Linked DNA regions of Homo sapiens. The protein of the gene in region 1 binds, or shares a complex with, the protein of each later gene. Each region holds a gene or a part of one and is shown in the gene's direction. Other genes may lie near its edges.

Region 1 (10,605 bases):
TGTGCACCTGCAGGCTCAATACCACATGGAAGGTGCCAAGGCTTAGGGCTTCCACCCTCTGAAGGCACAGCCTGAGCTGCATGTTGGCCCCTTTTAGCCATTTATTTGTGCATTCATCCATGCATAAAGTTTGGGCTGTTTCCACCTATTGGTTGTTGTGAATGGTGCTGCCATGATCATGAGTCTGCAAATACCTCTATTAAAAAATAGAACTGCCATATGATTCAGCAATCCCACTTCTGGATCTACGGAGAAAAGAATTAAAAGAGGTATTTGCAGACTTATGATAAATGTGGCATATACAAACAGTGGGATATTATTTAGCCTTAAAAATAATATAATTTAGCCTGTCATATGCTACACCATTGATGAACCTTGAGGACATTAAGCTAAATAAAACAAGCCAGTCCCAGAAAGTCAAGTACAGTATGACTTCATTTGTATGAGATTTCTAAAGTAGTCAAATTCATAGAAGCAGAAATTAAAATGGTGGTTGCTAGGGATTGGGTGGAGGAAGAAATGGGGAGTTGTTCTTTGTGTTAGTCCGTTTTCAGGCTGCTGATAAACATATATCTGGGATAGGGTAATTTACAAAAGAAAGAAGTTTATTGGACTTACAGCTCCACATAGCTGGGGAGACCTCACAATCATGGTGGAAGGCAAGAAGGAGCAAGTCACATCTTAGGTGGATGGCAGCAGGCAAAAAGGAGCTTGTACAGGACAACTCCCGTTTTTAAAACCATCAGATCTCGTGAGACCCATTCACTATCACGAGAACAGCACAGGAAAGACCTGCCCCCATAATTCAATCATCTCTCACTGGGTCCCTCCCACAATACATGGGAATTATGGGAGATGAGATTTGAGTGGGGACACAGAACCAAACCATATCATTCTTTAATAGCAAATTTCAAATTTGCAAGATGAAAAAGTTACAGAGATCTGTTACATAACAATATAGATGTATTTAACACAATTGAAGTGTACACTTAAAAAATGGTTAAGATGTTAAATTTTATATTATGTGTTTTTTTACCACATTAAAAGATACTCAAGGAATTAACCGCTTCTTGGATTTCCCATTTCTATATTCTGCCTACCTCTCTGCAGGGTACTTGGCACCTGTTACCTTGGCCATGTCCCCCTCAAATGCCAGCTTTGCATTATCTGCTGCCCTCATAAGAAGTAAGTCGCCTGTGCATTTCCCATGAGATTCTGTGAGTAATTTTCTTTGGATAATTCACAGCTGGTAAAGCCATTTCAGAATCACTTTCTTCACGGATAGCAATAATTGTTCTCTCTAGCAGGGCCCAAAAGAGAAGAAGCAATTTGCTATACATGCATCACTAAAAGAGATAAGCAAAAATCGCCTTATGAAATTGGCATGGCTTTGCAAGCCCCAGATGATCCCTCGCTTTGACAAAAGCATGCCATGACTCTTGGCCTGAAAGTTAAATTGTTCATCTAATGTATAGTAAATAAACACTCAGTAAAATCATTGTTTCCCTTTAAATTTTCATACAAATAGTTCTATTCCCCTACAATTAAATCTCAAAGCATAATCGGAAACTTTTTACAGATTTTGGCAGATTTTGATTAAAAGGTATTTCCATTACCAGAGCTTAATAATTAGCAGAAATGAAATTTAAAGTATCTCATTGATTAAGTACAGTTGTTAAAAACAAAAGAAGAAGAAAAAAAGCCTGCTGTGGGAATTCTCCTTTTTGGACTCTCCTAGCACATTCTATTCTGTACTACAAATAACTTTTACTTTCTTTAAAAAAAAAAAAAAAGTACCTCTCTTTTATTTACCAGTAAATAGCTAAAGATCCAAGTTTCTCTTTCTTTTTGCTTTCTAACCTATTTTGACTATTTCACATCTCTTTGGACACTTCATTCAGGTATCAAAAGAATGGAAACAAGGAAAGGTAAAAATTAAAGAAAACAATTAGAGTCACAGAAAATACATAAACTCATTATAAATTATATTCCATATGAAATAACAACTCCCCAAAGAGTGCATTACACATGATAAGACTGTGCTGACATACAGTAATGATAGTGTTTTCTCCATTACTGAGTGGCCTAAGAATAATTTAATAAATACAGTGTGCATTGACAAACCAAGACGGCACAGGTCCGACTGCCTTCTTAGACTGGAATTTCTAATATCTTTTCAAAGTTGTTACAAAAGTTCTGTGAACAGTTTTAAGAAGTTTGTAGACCAGGTTACACTCATTTTTTGTTTTACTGAGATTGGTGAAAAAAAATATGTCAAAGAAAGGAATATAAAAATTACTTAAGTTATAAGTAGGAAAGCAAATTATTGTCTAATTTTAATTAAAGTAGACCATAGCCTAAAATAGCTGAACTATGTTGCTTTTCTCAGAAAAAAAGAATGTATCCTGTCTGTTTCTCATATTTTCTATAGGCAGAAAAGAATTAATGAAGTCTTATTTCTAGTTACATTAAACCTATCAAATTTTAATTACATCAGGGAATGAAGTGTAATTTGGTACCATCAAGCAATCATTGATAACGTTTCAAATGTCAGATTCTCTCATTTAATCACACCTCTAATTTATGAGTGACATTTTAGTTATAGAAGCTGATAAGATGTATCAGATAAGTTGATAAAGCAGAAATAGTGTCTTAATGAGCGTTTTAACAGGAATAGCGTCCAAATCTAAAATATTCAAATTTTACCACTTTTAAAGAATAAATGAATTTTCAAAGAGCCCCTTAGGTATGGGTCACAGGATTGCAAACATTTGGCAAAACTCTTCAAGCTGCAGTTAAGCCCTGTCCATTTCACTGTACATACATTATACTTAATTAAAAAAGATTCTTTATCATGGATCCAGATAGCTACAGTCACTTAATAGAAAAGAAAACTCAAGAAATAGAAATTCTCATGCTGTTTGCTATTGACTTTTGCAGTCACTTTAAAACTTTTTTATTCTCTTACTTCAACCACTATTTGATCATTGAATCTGGTCCCAGAGGAATATGTGGAGAACCAGTTGAACCAACTCTTTCTGTGTTTTTCGCACACCTTGTCTCTCAGCATTCATGATTTAGAGAGTTCAACATAGGTTTTGAGGGCACATTCATTTCAAGAGGATTACATGAAAGTACTAACTTTTTTGTGTGGCTAAAAGGGCTTTTCTTTGTTCTGTCACCAGGCGAAAAGGTTTATTTTGGGAATGCTCCCCATGGCAAACCTCTTTGAGAAATGAATTCCGAATTGCATTAAACCCTGTCTTCAGGAACTTCTAGATAAAGCATTTAAAGGAAATACTGGGACATTGTCTATCTTCAACTTTCTAACTTTGAGAAGTGATCTTAGCCAATCTGGAATTTTGATAGATTTCCTAGACACTTCATAAACGTTTAAAATAAGCAACTTTGTAAAAGACTCCACATTTACCTAGCCAAAAAAAAAAAATCCTCTCATAAATGCAAAATTAGTTCACAAGTTTGCAGGTAGGAATTCTTAAAATTTGATACAACTTTTTGCTCATATATAGAAGTGAAATTTACATAGTAGTTAGTTGCTAGTGAATTCATAAATAAAATTTATCGATAACAGATTTTAAGTAATAAGATGAAAAAAAAACTATATCCATAGCAGTACTGCTCAAGGCATGAGTAATGAAAGTAACATTAAAAAAAAATATTGGCCTAGAATCTGTTTCCACTTTTCTGCACTTTAAGACACTCCTACAGAGGCAGTTTGTCAGTCGGACTGATTTATTGGAGCAAGAAGTAACTTTAATCCTTTTCTTCCATTTTACAAAAGGGGAAACTGACACCCAGTCATTCATGAAGATCAATGAACAATTCTTTACATTTCACATGGTTGTCTTTACATGTTAAGGTGAAATATTTAAGGTTAAACTTCAATTGCATATTACTGATGTCTAGAACACTGTTTCCCCAAAATAAGAAAAAAATTTGCTTAGGCTTTCTGCAATTACAATAATAAAAAGCATAGTCTGTGTAACCATTTAGACATGCATTCAAATCCTAGCTCCAAATCCTGGTCCCACAACTAACTAGCCACATGACCTTAAGTGAATTACTGAGACTCAGTTTCACTGCCTATAACATCATAGAAAATAATACAGAGCTGGAAGACAAACATCAGAGAATCAATGAGGTACTGTGAAAAGGTGTCTAATGCAGGTGGTAGACCCTGTAAGGAGTAGCTGATACTGTGTTTTAAATTCCAAATGAGGAATGTGTATATTTACCTTAAAATTGTTTGGCCTTATTCTTGAGCCCAATGACCAGTTAATAAAGTATAACTGAATACTTTAAAATATCATTATCAATTTATAAAAAATATTTCTTAAGCTCATTTTGTGGCAGGTAGTGGGATGGTGCAGAAAGAACATATAACTCATTCAAGTCCCTGTCCTGTAAAAGAAATTAAGTCACACGAAATCAATAGTGACCCATAGATGTCTCTTATGTGATCAAGTGCTTGCTAAGTTGTGGTTAACAGTCCAAAAGTGCTCCAAGAAAAGTAAAGAGATAGACCTCAGTGAGGATTAGAGCAGACTTCCAGGACTCAGTGGAGGAAATTTGAATGGAGATGGAGATGATGAGAAGGCCAGTGGGGAGAGAGAAAAGTCACCCCACAGGAGCCATAGGCATGAACCCAACAAAGCTTGTATAGGAAGGGCAGATCCAACACTGGGTGGAGTCAACTAAGCAAAATATTCATATTCCAAAGCTTCCATATAATTCCTTATTCAGACAACATTGTATATTGTTACTTGGCTCAGCAATTGAATGTTGACCTCGTTCTTACGAGACAGGGAGGATAAGGACTGCAATTCAAAATAGCCAGATTTGGAATTAGCACTCACAACCCTAGACCATATTTCTCATTCCTTTAGCCTTACTCCGTAACCATGTTCCTAACCACATTTCACACTTAAAGTTCACCTTTTTAAATAGAAATTGATTTTCTACTTCCACTGTCCCAGAAAGCATTGCCTAAGAGCCAAAAATCCAAGGTTCTTGTCCCATCTATTCCATTAACTAACATGAAGCAAAAAACGAGCCTCCTGTCTCTGGGTGAAACTGCTACATGGAATGGGTGCTTCTGGGTTTGAAGTTCCACAGATCCAGTAGGGATTTTGCTGATTGGAGGACGGCACAGTACTCTCCAGTGCATCTCCAAGCCTGACTTCCTGACCTCTTTTATACAATCTCTGGGCAAAACTACCAGTCGCTGTTATTTTCCTCTCTGCGGTAAACATGGAGCTCAAGAATGGATAGAAAGACCTTATTGTATTGCTCTACCTGGTAAATAAATATCATGTTGAATTTGCATGGCAGCTTTCTGATTATTTTCATGTCTCCGATAAGCATCAAGTCTGTCATAGGTACAGTATAAAAATGCCTGAGATTGCCTAACACCGATACTGTGGCAGGAAGAGAGGAGAAGAGCTGTACTGGGGAAAATGAGGAGTACTTGTAATCCTCTCTCGGGGCAGTGAGAGGGCCTGGGAAGAAAAGATCGAGCTGTTCCGTGTTGGGGTTAATGTTGGCTTGAAATGAAACTTCAGGGCAAAATGAAGCAGAGCAAAGAGCAGCGCCCACAAACCAACCTTAAATATCACAGCGGCGGAACATTTACCTGAAAGAAAAGTGACACTTGGCATTAAAAGTTCAATTATCACGTTCAGTGCAGAGCCTTGTTCTAGTCTGGAGCTGCCGGGTGTCACATGGTGCGTGATAACTTGCCCTTGATTTGGGTTCATTTGAAGAGCGTAGAACTCTAACAAATAAACAGCCTTTTGGGACCTGTCCCCGGACGAGGACTGCCCCCCTCCCTCGGGCAACTACTACTGATGCTGTCCAGGCATCGCCCAAGGGGAAAGGTTGCAGCGGGGTCGGAAGGCGCGGGAGGAGTCTGGCGGTGATTGATGGGAAGGGATGAATGAATAAAAGTACTTGTCTGATGGCAGCAGAGACCCCGAGCAAACGGTGGAGGCTACACTGTCTGGCATTCTCGCAGCGTTTCGTCAGAGCCGGACCCGCCTGCAGCTCAAGGGAGGCGTGCTCCTCTCCCAGAGCAGGCTGGAACCCAGCTGGGTTCCGCCTCCCGGGAAGGTGGTCTCCATTCGTCGCTCTGCATCTGGTTTGTCAGATCCGAGAGGTAAACATTCGGGCTTGGTGTTGAATTAAAATCATTGATTGAACCTTATTCTGGGGCTTCGGTTTGGCTTACTAGTTTGGGATTTTAAAAAAATAAAAATTAAGCCTATAGAGAGGGCAAATTAAAATTAGGTTGGGTAAAGGAAGGAGCGCGAGTGTTTGAAGCCGTTTGGAGGGAACAGCGGTTTCCAAGTTCCTGCTGACTTGAGAAGTCTCTGCGGGTTTCCGAATCTCCGGCGCACTCCTGGGCGCGCTGCGGGAGCTGTAGCTCAGCCAGCCAGGGAGTAGCGGCTTTCATCCGCCGGGAGGAGTCTTTCGAGTTCAATCGCGGGGTATAGAGGTTCCCCTGCGGGGCAAAATGCAGAGCTTGACACAAGCCCTTGGCCTCTAGGTGCCTTAATTCCGCGGTTCCCACGCACGCTTAACTAAGACGTGTCTGTATTCCTCCCGTTACGTGAAAGAGTTCGGAGCTTTGCCTGGGACCCCCATCATTCCCTCCCTGGCACACCCCTTCCAGAACGCCCCGCCCCACTGCATATTATTTACCCCTCCTGGCCACGCGGGGGAAGAAAAACAGCTGAGAGGGCATCAGGAAGGAGTTTCGACCCGCGCTGGCGAGTCATGAGCGCCAAGTTTCCCACTGGCGCGCAAACTTGAGTTACTTTTGAGCGTGGATACTGGCGAAGAGGCTGCGGGCGGTATTAGCGTTTGCAGCGACTTGGCTCGGGCAGCTGACCCAAGTGTCCTGTCTTCCTTCCTCTGCTTGTCTCTAGGCTCTGAAACTGCGGAGCGGCCACCGGACGCCTTCTGGAGCAGGTAGCAGCATGCAGCCGCCTCCAAGTCTGTGCGGACGCGCCCTGGTTGCGCTGGTTCTTGCCTGCGGCCTGTCGCGGATCTGGGGAGAGGAGAGAGGCTTCCCGCCTGACAGGGCCACTCCGCTTTTGCAAACCGCAGAGATAATGACGCCACCCACTAAGACCTTATGGCCCAAGGGTTCCAACGCCAGTCTGGCGCGGTCGTTGGCACCTGCGGAGGTGCCTAAAGGAGACAGGACGGCAGGATCTCCGCCACGCACCATCTCCCCTCCCCCGTGCCAAGGACCCATCGAGATCAAGGAGACTTTCAAATACATCAACACGGTTGTGTCCTGCCTTGTGTTCGTGCTGGGGATCATCGGGAACTCCACACTTCTGAGAATTATCTACAAGAACAAGTGCATGCGAAACGGTCCCAATATCTTGATCGCCAGCTTGGCTCTGGGAGACCTGCTGCACATCGTCATTGACATCCCTATCAATGTCTACAAGGTAAAGGGCGCCTGCTGAAATCATGGTGGGCTTGAGGAAGGGGGCCTGGTTGGAGACGGGGAGATGAGAAAGCTTGTAGAGGGAGCTTCCCTTTAGCTCCCTCTTAAGGTTCTGCCCCTCCTAAAAGTCAGTAATCTTTGGAACCAAATTCCATTTGGTTCTGTCCACTCATAAAAGTCAGTAACCATTGGAATAAAATTCCATTCAGGTCTTCAGTAGACCTCTGCTAAGCTTAGGACAAGCGTAGTCCCCAGTCTAGCAATGTTAGTATCACTTTGGGAACTTGGTGCACATGAAGATTTTTCTGGCCTCACCCCAGACCTACTGAATCAGAAACTCTGGAGTGGAGCACAGTAATTTGTATTTTAACAAGCCCTTTATGTGATTATGATGAACTGTAAAGTTTGAGAACCACTAGTCCTGAAGGATCTAGTCCCTAAGTGCACCTAATGGGGTACATCCTCTAGTCAAAAGTGTGTGGTCCATGGACAGTCAGCATCAATATTACCTGAGAGTTTGTTAGGAATGCAAGGCTACCTCAGACTTACTAAGTTAGAATCTGCATCTTAAGATCTTCATGTGATTGATATGCCCACTAACTTTGGGAAGGACTGTTTTGGAAGACTTTGAAAGTAGCAGGTACAAAGTAGGTATTTAGGAAATAAATGGCCTGGAAAAAAGAGATCCAGACTGGTGAGTAGGAAAAACACAGTTCACCTGCTGTGACGGACTGTAGCTACTTTGTATTAAATATCTACAGTGGGCCAAGGACTGGGTGAGATGTGTTACTTCCATTATTCCTTCCAGCAGCCCACAAGTAGATATTACAATTAGTTTACAGATGACTGGTAGGATGATCAAAGTAAATGAATTAGAGGTGGAGCTGGGGATCAGACCCAATCTGTCAGGTTCCAAAGTGCAAGCTATATGATGGCACCCCATCAATTATTTCATGGACAAGACCAAGGAGCACTCAAAATCTGTAAGGGTTTCGGTAGTTAACATTATTGTGTGATTACCATGGGCGTCAGTAGAAACACACAAAGAGCCAGGTTGCTCCAGGTTGCTTTGGAACTCCAGACACATCCCAGCACCTCTGGGCCTCAGTTTCCTCAATTCCACAATAAGGCTGCCAGTGCCCACTTACTGAGGCTTTATGGTGTTAAAAAAAAAAAAGCAGTCTAAATAAAACAGTTGGAAAATTTCAAAGACATATGAAAATATTTAAAACTTTCCCAGCAGCAGCAGCAGCAGCAGCAATAGAAAGTTGCACATAAAAACACAATCACAGTGTAAGGAAATGGAATTGTGCTTTGCAGATTTGCCTATAGCTAGCCCTGACTTCAGTACTTCAGTACAAGGGGAAAAAAATGGAATGTAAAGTTGGGAAATGTTGTAGGGAATGCTTTGACCTATTGGCAGGAGTAGTTACCATAAGGCATGCCTGTAAATTTCCCTTCATAAATCTCTAAAAATCCTAACCCAATAGCTATATTTTAAGGGGAATTCCGAACATTTCTGAGGTTTAGCGGTGAGAGTGGATTAGGATATAGTTTTCTCTAAAGGGAATCACCCCCGGAAATGGGGGAATCGATTGAAGAAATCCTAAAATCCTGTATGGCAATTGATTCTGATGAACTGTGAGGATTTACTTGGTAAGAGCTGAAATTGAATCTCTAAATGCAGCCACAACTCCATGAGGGCCAGAAGTGACCCTTTTACTTCTTAAGGCGTCCCACAAACTAAATCTTCCCATTCTAATTTGGCAAAGGAATTTCAATTCAATTCATCAAAACCGAATTGAGAACTTTTCAGTACAAGGTGTTGTGATAAATTTAAAATAAATCTAACAAGATCTCTTCCCAAAGGGAGATTAAAATCTAGTTTTGCTAGGTTGGCACAGGATTTTATGAAAGTTCTGTTTAGGGGGTCAGGAAACCCCACATGTCCAGCCCAGTTAGAAACCTTTCTAAATCAGACAGTAGCTGAAGTGCTGTGTAGAAGGTGGGATTGAGAACATTTTTTTAGTTCTGGTGTGCTGCCTCCAGGACAGATATAAATCAGCTCTTCCAGAACCATCTTATTTCCTCTGTCTGGTTAAATGAGTATTTGTAATAAACTAGAGAATTTCTGACTCCCCAAGAGGTCATACAGTTTCCCTTTCATTTCAAACTCCCATATGATTTCCCTAGGAAGTTACATCCTTTTCCCTGAAGCCATCCAGTCTTAACATGACTGTGTTTTTACTTCTGAAATAAGCCAATGAGTCATTATAAATCTGTCCATCCATTAATCTACATGGGTCACAAACACATTCATCACATTACGTCCCATCACTAAGGTCATCATTATTGAATCCTACCTTGTGGCCTTAGGTTTAGCTTGAGACACAATATCATAATAATGGCTACCAGTTAATGATGCACTAGGCACTTGGTTTATTTCATTAAGTCACTATAACAACCCTGTAGAGGAGGTATCGTTATCATTCCTGCTTTAGATCTAGGCAAACTACTTGTCAGAGAGGTGAAGAAGTAACTTGCCTAATGTCATACCACTACAAAGTAATGAAACTGGGGCTTGAAAGCAGATCATCCAGCCCAAGACCCTGTGGTCCACCCCATCCCACTGCACAAAGCATGCTCAGGCACTGCATGGTCATCTCCAACCTTGAGTATTGTTTTAGGATCTCATTTGGGAGCATTTGGTGGAATTATGGCAAATAATATGCTATCCCACAGTAGAATACTTGGTAAACATTTTCAGAAATTAATTTGAGTCAGGATTTCGGTCTCTTGAAACCCCCTTCAGCTGGTCTGTAGTGTGTAATATCAGTGGAAGTTATTCTAATGGCTTAATTTACCAAAATATCAAATCCAGGACCAGTTAAAAGCCATTTATTCTCCTAAATAATTGTGGCAACGTAGTTTTTTTAATGCATTTAGAATTTCAGAGTAGTCAGGTATGATCATTCAGAAAAAAGTAATTTAAATGAGTTATGAAGGCTATATTTAATATATCCTAATATGAGAGGCTTAAATCTAAACCAGTGATTTCTAATTTTTTTGGTGGGGTTTTATAATTCTCTTTGAGAATTCAATATACACAATTTCTGGGGGTTTGT
Region 2 (9,783 bases), on another chromosome or scaffold:
AAGAAGGAAAGGAAGGAAGGAAGGAAGGAAGGAAGGAAGAAAGAAAGAAAGAAAGAAAGAAAGAAAGAAAGAAAGAAAGAAAGAAACCATGAAGGTAGCTGCCGTATTTCTATGAAACCTTCCCTCCAGAATTAGTTCCTTTTAGCATCTCATTCAGACACATGGAAAGCTTGTTTAAAATGACTTCACAAATTAGACTTAATGAAGTGACTTGACTCAACTCCCCTCACCCTCAAGTGGTCTTTCCCTGCATCAGAGTCCCTTTAGTTTCGGATGTCACTCATGACATAGAATGAACATTTAAAAGATGAGGAGGCAGCCACTGGCTATCACATTTTTCTGAGATGTGTGAAATATGATTCTAATATTAATAATAATAATTAACAAACAATAATATCCTAATATAATTATTAATCATGAATTATTAATACATAATCATATCATTATTTTCTCTTAGTCTAATTTATAGGTTCAGATGTGTGCATGCATGTGTGTCAGTGGCACTCAGAGAGGAGATTTAAATAGAGAGTGGGAAGGGAGATAAAAGATAACTGCTGCAGCACTGGAGCAAGAAGCCAAGGGGAGGTATCCGTTAAAAACTTTTTGGGATGTGAACCTTTTGTTTTTCTAGATTCTGGATGCCGGAACATCTGTTTTTTGAGATGCATCTGTAGGAGCATTTTTGTGTGGAATATTTGAAAGTTATCTTGAAAGTAAAGGTCAGAGACAGGAATTGAAACAGGGCTTAATTCTTAAACAAGAAGGTATAAGATATTGCAGTTGATGGAACTGTGGTGAGCATGTTCCCCAAGGGTGGTGAGCATGTCTGTGTGGGCATAGAAGATACATGTACGAACATTTTTATTTTATTTTATTTAGATGGAGTTTCACTCTTGTTGCCCAGGCTGGAGTGCAGTGGCGCAATCTCGGCTCACCACAACCTCTGCCTCCCGGGTTCAATGATTCTCCTGCCTCAGCCTCTTGAGTAGCTGGGATTACAGGCATGCGCCACCATGCCTGGCTAATTTTGAATTTTTAGTAGACATGGGATTTCTCCATGTTGGTCAGGGTGGTCTCGAACTCCTGACCTCAGGTGATCCACTTGCCTCGGCCTCGGGATTACAAGTGTGAGCCACCATGCCCAGCCAAACATTTTTATTTTTAATAGCTTAATGAATGTATAATGATTAAATGTTTAGCATGTATTAAACTATGATTTCATGTAGTTTTTTTAACCATACCAACCATGATTTCATATGGATTATTTAAGCATACCAACCATAATTTCATGTACATTATTGCTTAAGATAGTAATGATATAAAATTTTCTTAAAATTATTCATGTAAAAGAAACAAGTCAGTTAAAAGGAAAATATTAAGTAAAAATGTACAGGTGGCACCCAAATATGGTAAAAATTGTGAAGCAGTTTAATGAATAACTGAACTTTGGGAAATGCTAGATTAGAGAATTGGAAATACTCTTTTAAATAAACACTTGCTATCTATGATTATCCTATGGATGAGTGTCCAAGAAATAGAGATGCATATGTTGTATGTTTTTAAAATGTACAGGATGAATTTACATTGACCATCATATTTCCTGTGCTAAATCAACCATTATTTTTTGGACTATAGGGAGAAGCTGTGTTTCTTCATAGCTCCTGGAGATGTGTGATGTGTCACAGGCCTAATAACTATATTACACATTTTTTCACAAAAGTGCTACATAGAGTAGAAATGTATAATAGTTACCAACCCAAGACTAAATCAGGCCTAGTGGTGTGGATAGCTTCACTTTGCCTATGATAAAATACTTCCTCATTCTTTGTGTGATTTTCAAGCAACTTAACGACTGTTAGCTTTGCTGAGCTAAATGCAACATCTCATACCAAATTTATTGGCTTGGCAAAGTTACAAATTTTATTACGCAAAAGTTGAGAAAGGAAAGCTGGAGAATGCTAAAAACAGTACAATTTGCTACTGTGTAGTATCTGTATTGGGGGCTCAGCATGTTTTATTTATAGATATCTATTAATACAGAGATACAGAAAGAAATACATAAAAAATAGTTTTATCAAATACTTTCCAGCATTCAAGTGTAGCCTCAAAAGCAAGAATAGGCCAGGAGTGGTGGCTCACGCCTGTAATCACAGCACTGTGGGAGGCCAAGGTAAGAGGATTGCTTGAGGCCAGGATTTCAAGACCAGCCTAGGCAACATAGTGAGATCCCTATCTCTACGAAAAAATTTTAAAACTTAGCTGGGCATGGTGGCTTGAGCCTGTTGTCCCAGCTACTCAGGAGGCTGAAGTAGGAGTGTCACTTGAGCCCAGGAGGTTGAGGCTGCAGTGAGCTATAACTGCACCACTGCACTCCAGCCTTGGAGACAGAGTGAGACCCTGTCCCCAAAAAAATTAAAATTGAGAAAAAAAAAAAAGGCAAGAACAGCCACAGCAAACTTTCTATTGGGGAAAAAAAAAAATCCTCCTCTTTACATCTCTCCCTTCCTTCCCTTCCCTTTCTGAGAGTGACTGTGGCCAAAAGGAGCATTTTCCCCCTGCAGTCCTCTGAGGGGTGGGGTGGGGCTATGAAGCTATCCTTCATATTCACTCCTTTGTCCAGCTCTTTTCACCTCTAGTTCTTCTCCCCGCATCTCTGTCTAGCAGTGCCTTAAGTGGAGGAGGGGTGGGGGCATCAAGCTTGTAAAACTGGTTTGTTGGGGTTCTCCTTCTCCCCTCATTTCTTGATTCTTGGGAAAATGTCTTGCTGGGAGGCTGCCTGGCAGTGCCCTAGCTGCCTTCTGTGGGCTTGAATGGGGCTTCCCTCTGCCCCTACAGGAGGAAAAGGGAGCTGCTGCCAGAGGGAGAAATGGAGAGATGGACAGAGAAGGCAGGTGCCACCCCTCGCCCCTGACACACAAAGAAAAAGACACGGAAATTCTCTCTCTCTCTTCTCTTCTCCTATCTCTCTCTCTCTCCCTCTCTCTCTCTCTCTCTCTCTCTCACACACACACACACACACACACACACACACACACACACACAGGCGCGCGCGCGCGCGCGCAGGCACACGTCTTGCAAATTCAGGATTCAAAGAGACAGGGGCACCATTATATTTGGCACGGTGGGGCCCTTCCAGGTCTGAAATCCTGCATTCTTCCTTACTATTTACTTTCCCCGAGCTCGAGAAGGGCCAGGTGTGGGCGGATGGCTGGCCACGTTTTGTGTTTCCAATTCATATTCACGGGATGACACAGACGGGGCGTGGTGAGTGCTGTTGGAGGCGCTTGGGCAGTTTCATTTTGCCCCACTTCTCCACCTGAAGGCTGGGCGTTGCTGGAACCTGCAGGGGCAGCCTCAGCAAGGTGGGGTGGCGTGGAGTGGGGTGGGAGAAGGGACTCCAGCTGAAGTAGAACCCAGGCTGGACCTGAGAATATTGGGGAGGGCATGGGCGGTGGTTTCCGGGTAGGGGCCTTGAGAACATGTTGGTCCTGACTGTTGTCAGTGTTTGGTCAAAGTTGCCAAAAGGTTAAAAAAAAAAAAGTAGGGGGAGTCCCTGCCAAGACATATTTCCCAGGCCACCTTTCTTCCGCGGGAGTGTTGGGGGGGAGGCGCTGCTTGGAACCTGTGAATGTGACATCAGCTCTCCTCTCCTCTCCCAAGGTCGGCTTTGGAGAGGGAGGTCAGGGCACCCTTGCCTGGCACAGGCGGCAGCGCTGGCTTCCGGCTCAGTGCCGCCTGTCCTCCGGGAGCTGTGGCCTCCCTGGGCCCCGGGGCTAGGCTGAGGTAAGCGCACAGCGGAGGCCAGGGGCCCCGGCAGAGGCCCTGGGGATAGGGTGGAGGCATCTCTGGGTGTGGGTGTGGGTGTGGGTGTGGGAGGGAGAGTTCTTGCCTCTCTCTCTCCCATCTCCAACTCTTGCTTCAGTGGCTCTTTTAGAGGATGCATGTCATTATGGACCTGTCGCTGCCACTGTCCCTGTTCCCCCAGCTGTGACTTCGAGGGAGGTCTGGGGATCTGAGTCTGTCCAAACCCACGGCTTTGCTGTTGGGATAAAAACTGTCCTTTTGATTTTAGAAGGAGGAGGGAAAAAAGGTTTCCCAGCATGTGTGTTGTGCCAGTCTTGGAAATTCATCCGTGCTTGAATTCCACCCTCCATCCCCAGAAAAACTGGAGTAAAACAAAAAGAGGAGATGGACAAAGTGTGTATTTGATGGCATCCCCTGGGAAGAGACTCTAAATTTATCCCATAGGTCTTACTGGGCCACTGTGAGCGCTTTGGTGGAGAACAAACAAAAATTCTGGGTGCTCAGTTGTCTAACCTGAAAAATGGGACTAGCGGAAAAAGCCAATGTGTTCCATGCACCTTTTGCTTTCTTTATTAAGGCATGATGTCACCTGTACAGTAACTGCCCTGTGTGTACTTCAGGGGGGGATTTCAAGGTTAGATAGACAGGAAATTGTTTTGAAAATGTAAACACATTATTAAATGTGAAGTATTATCTGATTCCTTGTTCGAATGGCATTTCCTTCTCAGCACCACCTTCCTTGCATATTCACTTAACCTTGTACAAGAACACCTTTTTGCCCTAAATGAAGACACCCCCCCAAAAAAAAGAGTCCCAGAAAATATGTCCCTGCTTGTGCGGGGAATAAATAGAATATTCTGAGGTGCATTCCTCCTTCCTATGTTAGGCAACATTCCTTGACCCTCCTCGGCCCCCAAGCCAGGTTGCGTTTTTTTCTGCCATTTAGAAGGGTTTTCCTTTTTGTCCTAGTAAAACATCAGCCCCTGTAGCTCTTCATCTCCCCCTGGTGTTCTTCTCCCGCCATGTCTTAAGATTGGTGGCACCGACCAATCTTAAGATTTAAGTTCTGTGTGAAAAACACCTTTGCTTTTCAATCAGTTTATCAGCCTCCTCCGCAGGGGAAGTGTGGACACACAAAAGAACTTATCGGGGCTTCTCATCAGTGATAGGGAAAAGACTGGGCATGTGCCTAAACGAGCTCTGATGTTATTTTTAAGCTCCCTTTCTTGCCAATCCCTCACGGATCTTTCTCCGATAGATGCAAAGAACTTCAGCAAAAAAGACCCGCAGGAAGGGGCTTGAAGAGAAAAGTACGTTGATCTGCCAAAATAGTCTGACCCCCAGTAGTGGGGCAGTGACGAGGGAGAGCATTCCCTTGTTTGACTGAGACTAGAATCGGAGAGACATAAAAGGAAAATGAAGCGAGCAACAATTAAAAAAAATTCCCCGCACACAACAATACAATCTATTTAAACTGTGGCTCATACTTTTCATACCAATGGTATGACTTTTTTTCTGGAGTCCCCTCTTCTGATTCTTGAACTCCGGGGCTGGCAGCTTGCAAAGGGGAAGCGGACTCCAGCACTGCACGGGCAGGTTTAGCAAAGGTCTCTAATGGGTATTTTCTTTTTCTTAGCCCTGCCCCCGAATTGTCAGACGGCGGGCGTCTGCCTCTGAAGTTAGCAGTGATTTCCTTTCGGGCCTGGCCTTATCTCCGGCTGCACGTTGCCTGTTGGTGACTAATAACACAATAACATTGTCTGGGGCTGGAATAAAGTCGGAGCTGTTTACCCCCACTCTAATAGGGGTTCAATATAAAAAGCCGGCAGAGAGCTGTCCAAGTCAGACGCGCCTCTGCATCTGCGCCAGGCGAACGGGTCCTGCGCCTCCTGCAGTCCCAGCTCTCCACCGCCGCGTGCGCCTGCAGACGCTCCGCTCGCTGCCTTCTCTCCTGGCAGGCGCTGCCTTTTCTCCCCGTTAAAAGGGCACTTGGGCTGAAGGATCGCTTTGAGATCTGAGGAACCCGCAGCGCTTTGAGGGACCTGAAGCTGTTTTTCTTCGTTTTCCTTTGGGTTCAGTTTGAACGGGAGGTTTTTGATCCCTTTTTTTCAGAATGGATTATTTGCTCATGATTTTCTCTCTGCTGTTTGTGGCTTGCCAAGGAGCTCCAGAAACAGGTAGGCACGCTCGTTGACTTGTAAGTCTCGGAATTACAAGTTAGTGTGTTCTTATCCACCTTCATGCTTTTCTTGCTTCTATTTTTCCCCGTTCTTTTTATGACTGCAGCTTAGAGAGCAAGTGTCTGAGAATTATTGCTGAAAGCTACTTTAAGTCTTCTAGTGTAAAATGTAAAATTCCTCTATTGAATACAATTAGGTGCAATTGACTATAACATGACATTAAAATAACTTATCGTTTTATTATTATTATTCCATTATGTGTTTCCTTGGCTTTTAAAAAATGAGAAGAGTATGGACATATACAATTTAGTCAAATGTATGTTTGTAATATATGTGTTTATACAGGTACACAGGCCATATAGGAACTTAAATCTTATTTAAACACTATTTTAATAGTGTGTTAACGTGTAAAATATTTAAGCATTCCAGCTTGAAGCCAAGGAATTGTATCCAGTCGTTCAAGCAATGTATGTTCAGTAAAATCACCTGCAGAGCAAAAGTCTGTTGACTAACTACCGCCTCCCCCCCCCCCCGCCACCACCCCCCGCAGGCGGTTTCTGGGTGAAGCAGATGTTTTCTTTAAAATTTGTCATCATTGACTTTAGGTTTCTTTTGGCAGGTTTTTGGCACCCAAAACAGTGTGAGCTCTCTTTTCAGCTTTATTCACCTGTGCTGGGAGGGGAGCTAGGATAATTCTTGGCTGCCGAAGGATTTAGGCAGTGCGTGTGCATCTGCCCGGGTCCCCCCCGTTTTTAGGGTCAGTGCACTTTTTTTGTCTTTTCGTGACCCTGACTAAAGAGAAAGGATGTCAAGGGAATGAAAATCCTGGAATGTGTCTGATCATTTGAAATGTACAAAATTGGGCAGATAAGCTGCATGGCTAAATTGTTAGGAGGAAGAGGCAAGGCAGTAGTGGAGAAGGGGGAGGCAGTGGATCCCACACAAGCCTGATGCCCAGGGATTCGGAATTCAAAATCCCCCCAGCCTACCTTCAGTCCCCTGACCTGCTTCTCAGCCCCACCTTAGGTCACTGGTTTCTATGGAGTTACCCTCCTGAATTGAATATTGAATAGTTAATTTCTCTCTCCAATCATTTTCCCCACCTAATTTTGAAAGATATACATCATCTGGGGTACCCTGTGCCCTACACAGCATGTGAAGTGGATGGGTACCCCCTAAAGAGAGGGTCATCCTGAATGGGGAAGTGGCCCCAAAGCTAGGAATAACTGTGATTTCTTGTCTTTAGTCATGTGCCAATGTTAAGTAAGCTTCAGTGGATAGTGCTGTCCTACCAAGTTCCTTGTAGAAGCCAGCCGGATTTTCAACAGGCAGCATTCCACAGCATTTCCCTGAGCCTGCTTCAAGAGGGGTGGGGGAAGTCCCTTTTCAGGTGTTTATCTCCTCTGCATTTGTGTAATCTCCCTGAAGGTGGATAAGCCAAGGGCATGAGGGGGAGGCAAAAGGTGAACTCATGTTAAGGAGGGAAAAAAATAAAGAGCCCTTTTTTCTGTGTTTCTTGCTGATGGCAGGCTGTGTGCTTCATCTGCTTTTATCTGCTCTGCTAGCTCTGACTCTACTGTGATCCAGCATGTCTCTCGGCGTTTGAGGAGACATCCCCCACTGACCTGCTCTTTCTCTCCCCAGCAGTCTTAGGCGCTGAGCTCAGCGCGGTGGGTGAGAACGGCGGGGAGAAACCCACTCCCAGTCCACCCTGGCGGCTCCGCCGGTCCAAGCGCTGCTCCTGCTCGTCCCTGATGGATAAAGAGTGTGTCTACTTCTGCCACCTGGACATCATTTGGGTCAACACTCCCGAGTAAGTCTCTAGAGGGCATTGTAACCCTAGTCATTCATTAGCGCTGGCTCCACTGGAGCCCAGTTTTAGAGTTTCTTTTCTAGGGACTCTGAAGGTAGTCCTTCTAACACCATCCAAGTGCCTCAGTGGGGACAGTTTCCCTCTATTCCTGAAAATAACGACAGCTTCGTTCTTAGCAACCAAGGGGAGGGTCTTCTGAGGCCCCGTAGCTCAGGCTACTCATGATGGGACAAGCAGGAGGCCACTGCACGTTTCAAATGAGGAACTTTCAGTGAGAGGGCCTCAGGGGGACACTCTCACAGTGGCATCTGATGGGGTTTCGGGAATAATTGCCGAGGTCAGATGTGGGTTAGTGCAACCTGTGCTTCTCATGGGAGGGTGGAGACTGAGAGGCAGAAGTGATGATATAGAGGGTTAGAATCACTTAATTTTACTTACAGAAAAACCTAGGCTCAAAGTGTTGAAGCCATTTGTGCAGGAGTGAGTTTGTAGCAGAGCTAGAACTGGAGCCCGGATTTCCTTTGCTGCTATATTTTCCCTTTAGAAATGCCCATTTCAGAACTGAAATAGAAATACTGTCCATAGGCTTCTCTTTCACCTACAGAGAAGAAAAGCAGATTTCCTCCTTCTGCCCTGGACACTAGTTCATCATCTGTCGGAAGCAGTCATAAACAAGCACACATTTACTATGCATACAATGTACCGTTATGACAAAGGAGGACCAAAATCCAAACAATATCAAACCACACCAAAAACCACAAGGAGCCTAATAATTACTAAGGTGATACTTCCAAAGGGAGGACTTTATTTCTTAGATGAGAATGAAAATGGACACATTGGAAATTATTGGAGAGCCCTCTGGCTATGAGTCCTTCCACAACCATATGGTACCACCGACTGGCAGGAGAAATGTGTGAACATGTGCCTCCTCCTCCCCCAACCACTGGGGTCGGTGGGGTGACGGTGGCACTTTTAGCAGTATCCTCCGTGGTTTGAGTTGAAAATAAGTTTTAAAAATCCTGTGAGTCATGGTTTTGCATTGAAACCTCTTCCCACTGTGTACCCACAAATAGTTAACTAAATAGACCATTAGAAAAGGAAGAAAATATAAAGCAGATGCCAAGCAGAGATGTCCTAATTTTTGACAAAAAAGCAATGTTGCTTGTGTCAAGAAGAAACTGAACTTTGTGAAGAGTTGAAATGGAATTCCACTGAATTAGAAAAACTTGTTTTCTCCTGCCTGGATACATACAGTCAGGGCCATTGATGCACAGGTGTTCCTGGCTGTTGTTACACTTTACCCTCTGAAATGATGCTCCCAAGTGCTATGTGATGAGCTCCTTGTGTGCCCAGTGGAATAGGTGTGTCCATGTGTCATTTTAAAGACTATTAATTACACTAATATAGTTTCTTTCTCTCTTTGGATAATAGGCACGTTGTTCCGTATGGACTTGGAAGCCCTAGGTCCAAGAGAGCCTTGGAGAATTTACTTCCCACAAAGGCAACAGACCGTGAAAATAGATGCCAATGTGCTAGCCAAAAAGACAAGAAGTGCTGGAATTTTTGCCAAGCAGGAAAAGAACTCAGGTGAGCAGAAACACCTTTGCTTTTCAATCAGTTTAACAGCCTCCTGAACTCCTTCCTATCATGGTACTGCCTTCCTGTTTTAGAGAGACTAACAGAGACATTGAAAGTCAGGGTAAAGCTGAATATAACATTGCTGAAATGTTTTTCCTTGTGTATTTTAACAGGGCTGAAGACATTATGGAGAAAGACTGGAATAATCATAAGAAAGGAAAAGACTGTTCCAAGCTTGGGAAAAAGTGTATTTATCAGCAGTTAGTGAGAGGAAGAAAAATCAGAAGAAGTTCAGAGGAACACCTAAGACAAACCAGGTAAGAGGGAAGGAAGAAAAATTAGGTAAGAGGTTCACAAGAACAACTAGCCCCAGTCAGTGATGCCAGCAGCCTGTTCCTCCAGCCCTTC
Region 3 (9,739 bases), on another chromosome or scaffold:
CCAGAGTTCCATCACCCTAGTCCTGTAAACAGAATTCTGGCTTACTTATTCCAGAAATTCAATTCTTGGAATGTTCGAAAACATTGTTTTCCTAATTTGACTTTAGTAGTAAATTGTGACCTTTTGGTTCTTTTTTGAATCCTTAAAGCATATGTGTAAGCAGCTAAATGAAATAATTCCATGTAAAACACGGCAGTAGAATAAACTAGAAATGTAAAATCGTTTCTAGGTAACGTATAACCAGTGTCACAGCCATTTACATTAGATCGTGTTCATCTTCACTTATTCTGTTTTTCTCATCACATGATGTTTTTTAAATTTAAGGCATAAAATCTCTAAAGTACTTTTAAGACAGTCTGTTAAATATATTGCATTTTTTTCTTAAGGAATGTATTGTCATTTTAAACAGCTGGGCTGAGTAATTTAGATATGAGACTTGCACACTATTAGTAAAGATTTTGGCACTGTCTATATGATTTAAATCAGAGGTATTTCACTATACTGAGCAGTGAATTAGGCCTTAAAAAAAGAGGAGCTAGTCTAATCATTGACACTAAGGAAATCAGGCCAGAGTTTGGGTTGTTTGTCTTTTAGGTTTAGTTTTTATGCTTATTAGGATGATAATACTTAATAGAGAAACATTTTAAAGAAGTAAGTAATAATGAAAGTTTTTTATATAATAATGTCTAATTGTTGAGGAAATTATTTTTTATTGTTATATCTTTGAGAATGTTTTAATTTATCATCCTTTTAAGGGCAGTAAGATTAAGCTTATGCTTTATTTCGGTAGGTAACTATAGTATACTACTTGTACTTATGAAATATTATTTTATTATGTATTTGGAGGACATAAGATTTGACATACAAATAAATGATCATGAATTTATTTTCTGTTCCAAAGCTTTGAGCAGTATTCTCATTTATTCCACCTCACTGTCCTTCCTTCCGCTCCACTCCCCCTCATATACAAAATTCCACACCCTTGTCTCCTTCTTCAGCTTGGTTTAAATATTCCAGGTTTGGGGGAAAATGAGCTGAGGGATTGGATTTCTTCTGTTTGGTGGATATTTTTCTATTGCTGCCACCAGGCAGCCCTTTGGGATGCTGCATCATTAATCTTCACTCCTTTTGAACTTGCCCTGTGACTTCCCCTAGTTGAGAAATGTTGGCTATGCAGGGCTTTTGATTTTTCATTGCTTTGACTTTCTTAGAATTGGTTTAGGATCTTAGATGTCAAAAAGCCCATTTCCTTGAATAAACGGATCCGGTATTTCAGTATGGGTTGTGTGCTTCTTTCTCATGGCATACCTTGTATTAGTTACTTTAGTAAGAAGCCACAGGTTTTGGAATTGCTGATTTTTTTCTGTACCTTCTGTTTTTCATTTTCATATTCATAGTTCAAGTCCTTCTCTGCCTCTGGCAGCCTAATTCCAATAGGCTCTCTTGCATCTTGTCTTTCCCTCTAGCCTGTTCTTTCTACTGCAGATATCATGCTGCTTCCTTGCTCAGAAACCTTTGTTGACTTTTCCGTTTCCTGCAGAATAAAATCTTTTAGACTTGGCTTCCCTCTAGCCTTATACTTTTTCCTTAGGGCACCCTTCTCCAAACAGAAACTGTTGGCACATGTTAAAGCATATTTGCACTTGATTTCTGGTATTGTTTATCCTTCTGCCCAGCCTATTTTCCTACTGCTGTGGGCACTTTAAAGGCAGAATTTTTGTAGGTTTTCTTTGAATACCTAACAACCCTTCTATTTTATTATGTGTAAAATGGCTTCTTAATTATGTAAAATTATTATCTTGCTGGAATATAAACTTTGTGCTCTGCTGTTTTCAATATCAATGAGAGCAAATAACTGTCCAGCCAAATTATGTAAACAAAAAAGGAATAGTAAATTATGTGATGACCACAGTGAACACATGGCATCTAAAATCAAATTGTTTGGTTTAAGATTTTTTTTCATATTTATAAGAGCTTTTCACAGTCATTGTATTTGATAAATTAAAGTTGAGAAAATGATAATGGATATTCATTGGAGGAGGATCTGCTATGTTGCAATTATGGCACTTTGCCCTGCAATTTTTTTTTTTTTTTTTTTTTTGTAAAGGTAGATCTCATTTTCTAATTTTTATTTTTGGCCCCAATTTCTTTTTTTTTTTTTTTCCTTTTTTTTGACGGAGTCTTGCTCTGTCGCCCAGGCTGGAGTGCAGTGGCGCAGTCTCCGCTCACTGCAAGCTCCGCCTCCCGGGTTCACGCCATTCTCCTGCCTCAGCCTCTCAAGTAGCTGGGACTACAGGTGCCTGCCACCACGCCCGGCTAATTTTTTTGTATTTGTAGTAGAGACGGGGTTTCACCGTGTTAGCCCGAGTGGTGTCGATCTCCTGACCTCGTGATCCGCCTGCCGCGGCCTCCCAAAGTGCTGGGATTACAGGGGTGAGCCACCGCACCCTTTGGCCCCAATTTCTAATGCATAAAAAGTATGACTGTTGTTGAATGTCTCAGTGATAGGAAACATGCCTATCTTACAGAATTTAATAGATGTTATTTAAACCTGAAAAAGACTGCTGTAATTTTTTAAACAGAAATTGTGTATTCAACCACAATCAATTTTTATTTTGTTACACATGTCTAACTGCCTTGGAAAATTCTGTGTACAACAAATTCACACAGGAAGACCTGAGTGTATTTGAGTGTGTTTGTTGCAGATTTCTTGGTCACATGTTCTGGCATGCAGTTAACCAATGTATGACTCCCCAGAGTATGACACAGTGAAGTTCAGATCCCAGACTCCATTTGAGTCTTACGAACTAAGGTCAGCTCTACCTAATCTTTTAGTGCTCAGACTGGTTTCTGTCATAACTTGTTAGTGCCAATTAAAAGCCGTAACGGAAATAGGGCAAAAAATTTTTTTTAATGAATGTTCATTACCATAAACGTAGTGACAACACAAAATTTATTGTCATACAGTTGTGGAGGTTAGAAGTCCAAAAAGGGTTTCCACTGGGCTAAAGTCAGGTTGTTGATAGGGCTTCTTTTCTTCTGGAGATTCTAGAGGAGAATCCATTCCCTTGCCTTTTTCAGCTCTACAGAGGCTGCCTGCTTTCATTGGCTCATGGTGCCTTCTCCATCTCAAAGCCAGCAATAGCTGGTGGAGTCTTTCTCATGTGGCATCACTCTCCTGCCTCCCTTTTTCACTTGGAAGGACCCTTGTAATTACATTGGGCCCACCCACATAATCCAAGTTAATAGTCCCATCTCAAGATCACATCTGCAAAATTCCTTTTGCCCTGTGAGGTGACATATTCACAGGTTTCAGGGATTGGGACATATTTATCTTTGGGGACCATTATTTTGCCTTCCACAGTCCGCCCTCTGGCTCCCAAAGGCTCATGTGCATCCTGCATGCAAAATGCATTCACCCTCTCCCAACATCTCCAAAAGTCTCAACCCAATACAGCCACAACTGACTGCAAAATCTCAACCAGGGCTCTTGATCTAACTCAGGAATAGGTGAGATTCTGGGTGTAATCCATACTGGGACAAAATTCCTGTCTGTTTGTGGACCTGTGAAACTAGCAAACAAGTTATCTGCTCCCAGAATATGGTGGGTCAGGCATAGGTTATCATTAAATGGAAAGAAAAAAGGAGTCTCTAGTTTTGAGCACTTTCAAAACTCCTTTAGGTTTCAAGGACTGGGGATAGTTCTCTGTGACTCTTTACTCCACCCTGTGGGTACTGAACTTCTCCACTCTTGGGAGTCATCCTTCTTTTCTAATGAAGGGTGTAGCACCTGTATGCTGCTGATTACTTTTATCAGCCTGTTTCTTGCCTCTGGAATTATGGTGGTCTGACAGCATTATTTCATTTCATATTCTTTTACTTCACCTTTTTCCTGTCCCGTTTTACTGTAACCAGCAAGAAAAAACAAAAACAAAGAACCGGCCACATCTTTAATACTTTGCTTGGAAATCTCTTCATCTTAATGTCCAGGTTCATAGCTTACAAGGTCTGCTTTCCACGTAACTGCTGGACTTAATTCAGCTAAGCTTTCTGCCTGTATATAGCAAGGATCCCCTTCCTCTAGTTTTTGATAACATGTTTCACCTTTCTTCCCATCCAAGTCCTCATCAGCAGCAAATTTAAGCTCCATGCGTCTAGCAATAGTATGTTCATGATAATTCACATATTTTCTAAGGTGATAATGTGTCATCTACCATGCTTCTCACTTCGTTCTGAGCCCACACTGGGAGAGACATTAACATCGTATTTCTATTAACAGTATGTCAAGACCACCTAGACTTTTTCTATTATGCTTCTCAAAATTCTTTTAGCCTCTGCCCATTGCCCATTTCTGCATTTTTAGGTGTTTGTTATAGCAGCACCCCATTTCCCATTATCTTCATCAGTATCTTATATATCACTTTTGAAAGTGCAAAATAATTGTAATTTTACATTCTCCAGTCCCTCATAATTTATGTGACTATCATGGTAACACTAAAAGCACCAGTTTCTTACATGTCATATTGAACCCATGGTGTTACTCAAGTCGTAATGTGAAAGAATAAAGCTTTTCTTTGCCTCTTCTTTATTGACATTTTTCCTGATCATCCAGTCTAAATTAGTCTTCCTTCGTCTCCCTTCCTACTAATACCATATTGAAATCATCTTGTACTTTTATTTTTTATTGTCTGTTGCCTTTCTCTATGGCATTGGCCCCATCAGAGCATGAATCTTGTCAGACTTATCATCTGATGGGATGGCACATAGTAGCTGTTTCATAATTGTTGGTTAAATTAATGGATAAATTGTTGAACATTAATTTTGACTAGTTTTCTTTTAAAGGGAAAAATTGGTACATATTCTTTGTGCCTTGGGTATTTTGAGTGAATTTTAGCCCAATATATATCTTGCTGGTTTAGAGTAATGAAAACCTACTACATTATTCCTAACACATTTCTAAAAAGTAAACTAATTTTGGGGACCATATTCTTGTTGCATGATCAAAATCATGATTCTTGGTAAATAAGTGGTAGAGTGAAATGTGATTTTCATATTTGAATATTCTGGGAACTTTGTTTTTAACAGTATTGCTGCCTTGCTGTTTCACATGTTATTTTGCTGCTTTCTTAAAATGCATACACTATTGCAATGTGGCATTTAATATATACTCACAACTATATATTTCACACAGGATGATGTGACTCTGGTAAACCTCAGCTTTCAGGAGCCAGCAGGCTGCTCAGAGGCTCACCAGCAGACTGTTCTTTATGTCTTGCTTGTTCCTATGTGGTGAGGATGATCACTAGTAGCATTTGTAAGATGTGTTCCATGCTTTTCCTGTCAAATTACGCATTAGCCTTACCAGATCCTTAAGAGAATTTACAGTCTACTTGGGGAAATACAATATATACATAAAGATAAGTCCTCATAATGTCAAATGGGGAAGAAAAAATAAAATAGATACTAGGTAGGGGAGGTGAGTGTCAATATTGGGACTTCATTGTTGATCTTGGGGGGTGGAGGTGGAGGTAGCTTGCCTCTCAGATATTACTTTGGTTATAAATCTGTCAGTTGTTTTCATGTATTTCTGAACCTACTATTTAACCCTTACTGGGTGTAAGCTTTGTGTTGTATGGAAACTTATAATGTAGAAGAGACTTTGCTATCTATGAATTTAGTTTTCTAACATTTTCCATGTCTAAGGAATTTTTTTCCCCTCCAAGGTTTATTTAGCTCTGTAGAAAGGCTTTCCAGAGAGGAAAGGTGAGTTGACTTAGAACTCTGGTGGTAAAAGTTTTCCCATGAGACCTTGGGCAAGTTACCAAATTTTATAAGCTTCAGTTTTTTCTTCTATAAATGCTGGATAATAAATATATCTACTTCATAGGGCTAGTGACAAAGTAAGCTAATGCATCTGAAGTACTTAGAATACTACATGGTACATACATTCTTAATAATTATAGGCTATTATTATAAATACTTCAGAGACTCTGTGGAATCAGCCCTCCCTTGCAGTTTCATCCATTTGTGGTCATAGACATTAAATTCTTTTTATTGGCTTTTCTTAGCAAGGATGTGTGTGTGTGTGTGTGCGCGCGTGTGTGTATCTATATGTGTGCATATATGTGTGTGTGTGTATATATATAGTGAAGACTTCAAGAAGTATAAATTCAGTTTTAAACATTAGTTTCTAATCCCACCGTAACTTCCTTGAGGGACTTGGATTTCTCTTTAACAGCCTCCTTACTGGGGCTAGACCAGGTAAATATCTGTGCTGTGTTAAGAATTCTATAGAGAATGCACTTTACATAATCAGAAGATTTTACAAATGTTATAGCAGTAATTTTCTCTTCATTTTATTATCCATTTTTAGAATTAGTGCAGTGGCTTTTTGCAAACTTTTTTTTTTTTTTGGAAAATAAAGCTGTTAGTGTAAATTATGAAACGTTAAGTTTATTCAAAAGATGGTGCCATTTCTCAGAGGAGTTTGACAACTTTCCACAAAATATAAAATCCTTTCTAAAACTTCCTGCACTGTTGACTCAAAGAGATTCCTGATAGAACTCCAGGATTATAACGGATTTACTTTTAGGAGAAGAATGTCTTTAAAAGTGGTGGTAACCTTAATAGAGAAACAGTGAATTGTTGAATCTGTGATAGTATTTGTGCCTTTTAATAAATTGTAAAATGAGTTCCTTAAGACTTACATCTTCAGTTGTATGAAACTCCTCCTGTTACCCTTGCCTCACTAAAGTACAATCCAGAATTTTTTCTAGTAACTGATCTATATTATTCATTTTTCTTGTTTGGGCACATACATCTTATTTGACAGCCGTTGCTGAAGGCTTACTAATTTTGTTCTTCATGGTATTTAAGAGGGATGGAACTTGTAAGTAAACTTACAGTTATAATCAATATAATGTAGTAGGAGTTAAACTGCCTTCTTATATGGTTCCGAAGTTAATCTAATTCCAAGAATTACATTTATTTCGGTATAGCTTGAAATTGATCCATGTATACTAGCTCACTTAAGTTTTCACAAACTGAGCACATTCAATCAGCAATCAGATCAAGAAATGTATGCAAGGTATATTTTGTTACTGTAAAAAGTAATGGTGGTCAGTAAAGTTGCTGGGACTATAAGATGGTGCTCCTCTAATTCAAGACCAACACTGAGCACTTGCCTCCATCAATTCGTCCTCTCTTGCCTCCAGCACCTTTTTCCATCCACCTGATCCACTAGCATCTTCATACTGCTTTAAAGACTCCTGTGTCCTGGTCTCAAGTCATGCCTAGCTTTAAAAGTGATAAAATCCAAGTAATACACCCCTTAAGTAATTTTTAATCTATTTTTTTATTTAAACTTTTCAGAATATTCAGAAAAATAGGCAGTGTTCATATTTTTCCTTTTTCACTTTGCAGTCACTCTTTAAATTACTTTCTGCTTTAAATTATTGACTTTCTGATTGATATAGAAGTATTGAGAAATAGGCAGTCATGTAACCATATCAATCTATATATTTTTTAAAGAGGTAATGTGGTGTTTATTCCCGTGTACTCTTCTCCTTCTGGAGTTCCTTTTATATGAAGGTTGGGCTTCTCATTCGAACTTAATTGTAACCTCTTTGTGGTTTTTATCTTTTTGTGCTACTTACACATTTTCTAGGTTCATTTTTATCCAGTTGGTAATAACTAATCTACCTATTAATAGATTGAGCTTTACATTTTAGTGGTGAAATTTCTATGTCTAAAAACCATTTCTAATCTTTAGCTTGAAAAAGTGTCTGTTATTCTACTTCTTTATTTTCTGGCTTTTTCAAAGCCATTTTCATTATATTGTACCTATTTCATAGTCTGAAAAACGATTTTTGAAGTTCTTGAGCTTCAGCTATTTATGGTGTCTTGACTCTGTCTCGAGGTAAATTGTGTCCTCTTATAATTTTTCATTTGTGAGCATATATTAAGCAGTACGTTGTCTGTGTGAATCCTGTACACCCTGGGTTGGCTGCAGTTTTCCTTTCAATCTCGTGGATGCTGTGTCCTTCTTACTTGGTTTTTCCCAGGCAGCCCTTTCCTGTAGAGCCAGTATGAGGTAGCCAGGTTCTCAGCTGTTTCGAGTGCTTTGCCTTCTCTGGTTATCTCAAGCATCAGGAAAATTATATGTTGCATACATTCCACAGAGGTCCCATGGTGATGGGGAAAGGTCAGCTCAGGCATTCCCTCTGCTTAGCCACACTTCATCATACTGCTTGGATACATGTTGCTGCCTAGGAGACTTTCTTAACCCAAACAGGCCCCACTGCCTTTAGCAGTTTCTTCATCTTCTCTGACATACAATTCAGCTTTGGCCCAGAGTGGAGATTAAGATATGGGTCTGACTCTGCCTCTCTTTTCCCTGTGTGACTGCTCCAGTTGCTCCTAACTGAATGCCCTGTAGCTCCCAAGCTTGCAGGCTCTGCCATGGGATGCCTGGGAAAGTAAGGCACTTGTACTCTTCCATTTTTGTCTGGATGATACCAGTGTCTGCCTCTTCTCCCATTATTCATGTAAATGCAAAAGAGAAAAAAAGCACTTTAATAATTTTCAAAAATTTCTCATATTACATTCTCTATTGTGTCTGGCTCTGAAGTTAGGTTTTTGTGTTTTTTTCCCACAATTATTCCTACTGTATGTCCTTGCTGCAATCCAAGTGCTGACCTTATTTTTTTAGAGCTCGTTCTTTTTAAAGTTAAACTTTACTATGCATAGAAGTAATTTTGAATCTTTCAAAATGCAGATTCTCATTGAGTAGGTCTGGGGTGGGGCCTGAGATTCTGCATTTCTCATAGGCTCCCGGGGTGCTTGTATTGCTGAGCCACAGTCCAGTCCATCTCAGAGTCCTAGAGGAGGTAATCTTCTCTGGTTCTTTTCCATTTATCCATTTCATAAGCATTTCTCACATCTTATCTGGCCTTTGCCACATTCATGAAACCTATCACTTTATCAGTAAGGTATTTAAAACACTGCCTTGCACAGAGTAAACATTCATCATGTTCTAGATATTCACATGTACATGAACACACACATATCTATCACACTTAATATTATTGCTGTTTTATAGTTAAACTTCTTCTAATGTCAATCTAGAAACTTGTTTTAGTAGTGCATTTTGAGAGAAACCATTTGGTATCATCTTGCATGGAAACATCCGCTTCCTTAGGAATGACCAAAAACTATAATTAGTGATAATGAATCTTTTATGATTTGGCAAGAGTGTTTTAAGTGGAGTTCTTTTGATGATACGATTGTTCAGGTCAGGCTGAAAGAGCCCCAATAATAATGTTTTTCTGACTGTTTTCCTCTGGTAATGTTTGTGATAAAATTCCTTTGTCATAAATAAATATTGTTGCTGGTGCAGACTGAATATTTGTATTCCCCCAAAATTCACATGTCGAAACCCTAACCCCCAATGTGATAGGGTTTGGAGATGGGGCTTTTGGGAAGTAATTAAGGTTAGATTAGGTAATGAGGGCTGGTCCTTCATGATGAGATTGGTATCCTTATTAAAAAAAAAAAAAAAGACACAGGAGCTCTCTTGCTTGTACCAAGAAGTGGCCATATGAGACATAACTCAGTGAGGGCCCTCACCAAGAACCAGACCATTCTGGCCCCCTGATGCGATCTCCAGCTTCTTGACCTATGAGAAATAAATGTTGTTTAAGCCACCCAGTATAGTTTTCTGTTACAGCAGGCTTCACTG

The links.
Region 2: the proteins of EDNRB (region 1) and EDN1 are in contact, whole or in part, in a cryo-EM structure (PDB 8XWP), measured with the Homo sapiens proteins. Residues at the interface, in NP_000106.1 of Homo sapiens: Pro88, Pro89, Ile94, Glu95, Ile157, Asn158, Lys161, Glu165, Asp166, Trp167, Val177, Pro178, Gln181, Lys182, Val185, Phe240, Ile243, Met245, Tyr247, Leu252, Ile254, Leu256, Leu257, His258, Pro259, Lys270, Lys273, Leu277, Trp336, Leu339; in NP_001403492.1 of Homo sapiens: Cys53, Ser54, Cys55, Ser56, Ser57, Leu58, Glu62, Cys63, Val64, Tyr65, Phe66, Cys67, His68, Leu69, Asp70, Ile71, Ile72, Trp73.
Region 3: the proteins of EDNRB (region 1) and GNAI1 are in contact, whole or in part, in a cryo-EM structure (PDB 8XWP), measured with the Homo sapiens proteins. Residues at the interface, in NP_000106.1 of Homo sapiens: Asn134, Pro136, Ile140, Asp198, Arg199, Ala202, Val203, Trp206, Ser207, Arg208, Ile209, Lys210, Ile212, Met296, Met300, His314, Gln317, Arg318, Val321, Thr324, Val325, Leu386, Val389, Ser390, Lys391, Phe393; in NP_002060.4 of Homo sapiens: Ala31, Arg32, Glu33, Lys192, Asp193, Leu194, Glu318, Tyr320, Phe336, Thr340, Asp341, Ile343, Ile344, Lys345, Asn346, Asn347, Leu348, Asp350, Cys351, Gly352, Leu353, Phe354.

The regions. Positions count from the first base shown.
Region 1 is NC_000013.11:77,914,967-77,925,571, reverse strand, and holds the start of EDNRB (endothelin receptor type B isoform 1 precursor), read left to right. Parts: upstream 1-6,740; 5' UTR 6,741-6,947; coding exon of another isoform or gene 6,948-6,998; coding exon 6,999-7,481; intron 7,482-10,605. UniProt on the Homo sapiens protein: Non-specific receptor for endothelin 1, 2, and 3. Mediates its action by association with G proteins that activate a phosphatidylinositol-calcium second messenger system.
Region 2 is NC_000006.12:12,284,713-12,294,495, forward strand, and holds the start of EDN1 (endothelin-1 isoform 1 preproprotein), read left to right. Parts: upstream 1-5,648; 5' UTR 5,649-5,917; coding exon 5,918-5,981; intron 5,982-7,628; coding exon 7,629-7,797; intron 7,798-9,228; coding exon 9,229-9,384; intron 9,385-9,548; coding exon 9,549-9,692; intron 9,693-9,783. UniProt on the Homo sapiens protein: Endothelins are endothelium-derived vasoconstrictor peptides. Probable ligand for G-protein coupled receptors EDNRA and EDNRB which activates PTK2B, BCAR1, BCAR3 and, GTPases RAP1 and RHOA cascade in glomerular mesangial cells.
Region 3 is NC_000007.14:80,137,831-80,147,569, forward strand, and holds part of GNAI1 (guanine nucleotide-binding protein G(i) subunit alpha-1), read left to right. Parts: intron 1-9,739. UniProt on the Homo sapiens protein: Guanine nucleotide-binding proteins (G proteins) function as transducers downstream of G protein-coupled receptors (GPCRs) in numerous signaling cascades.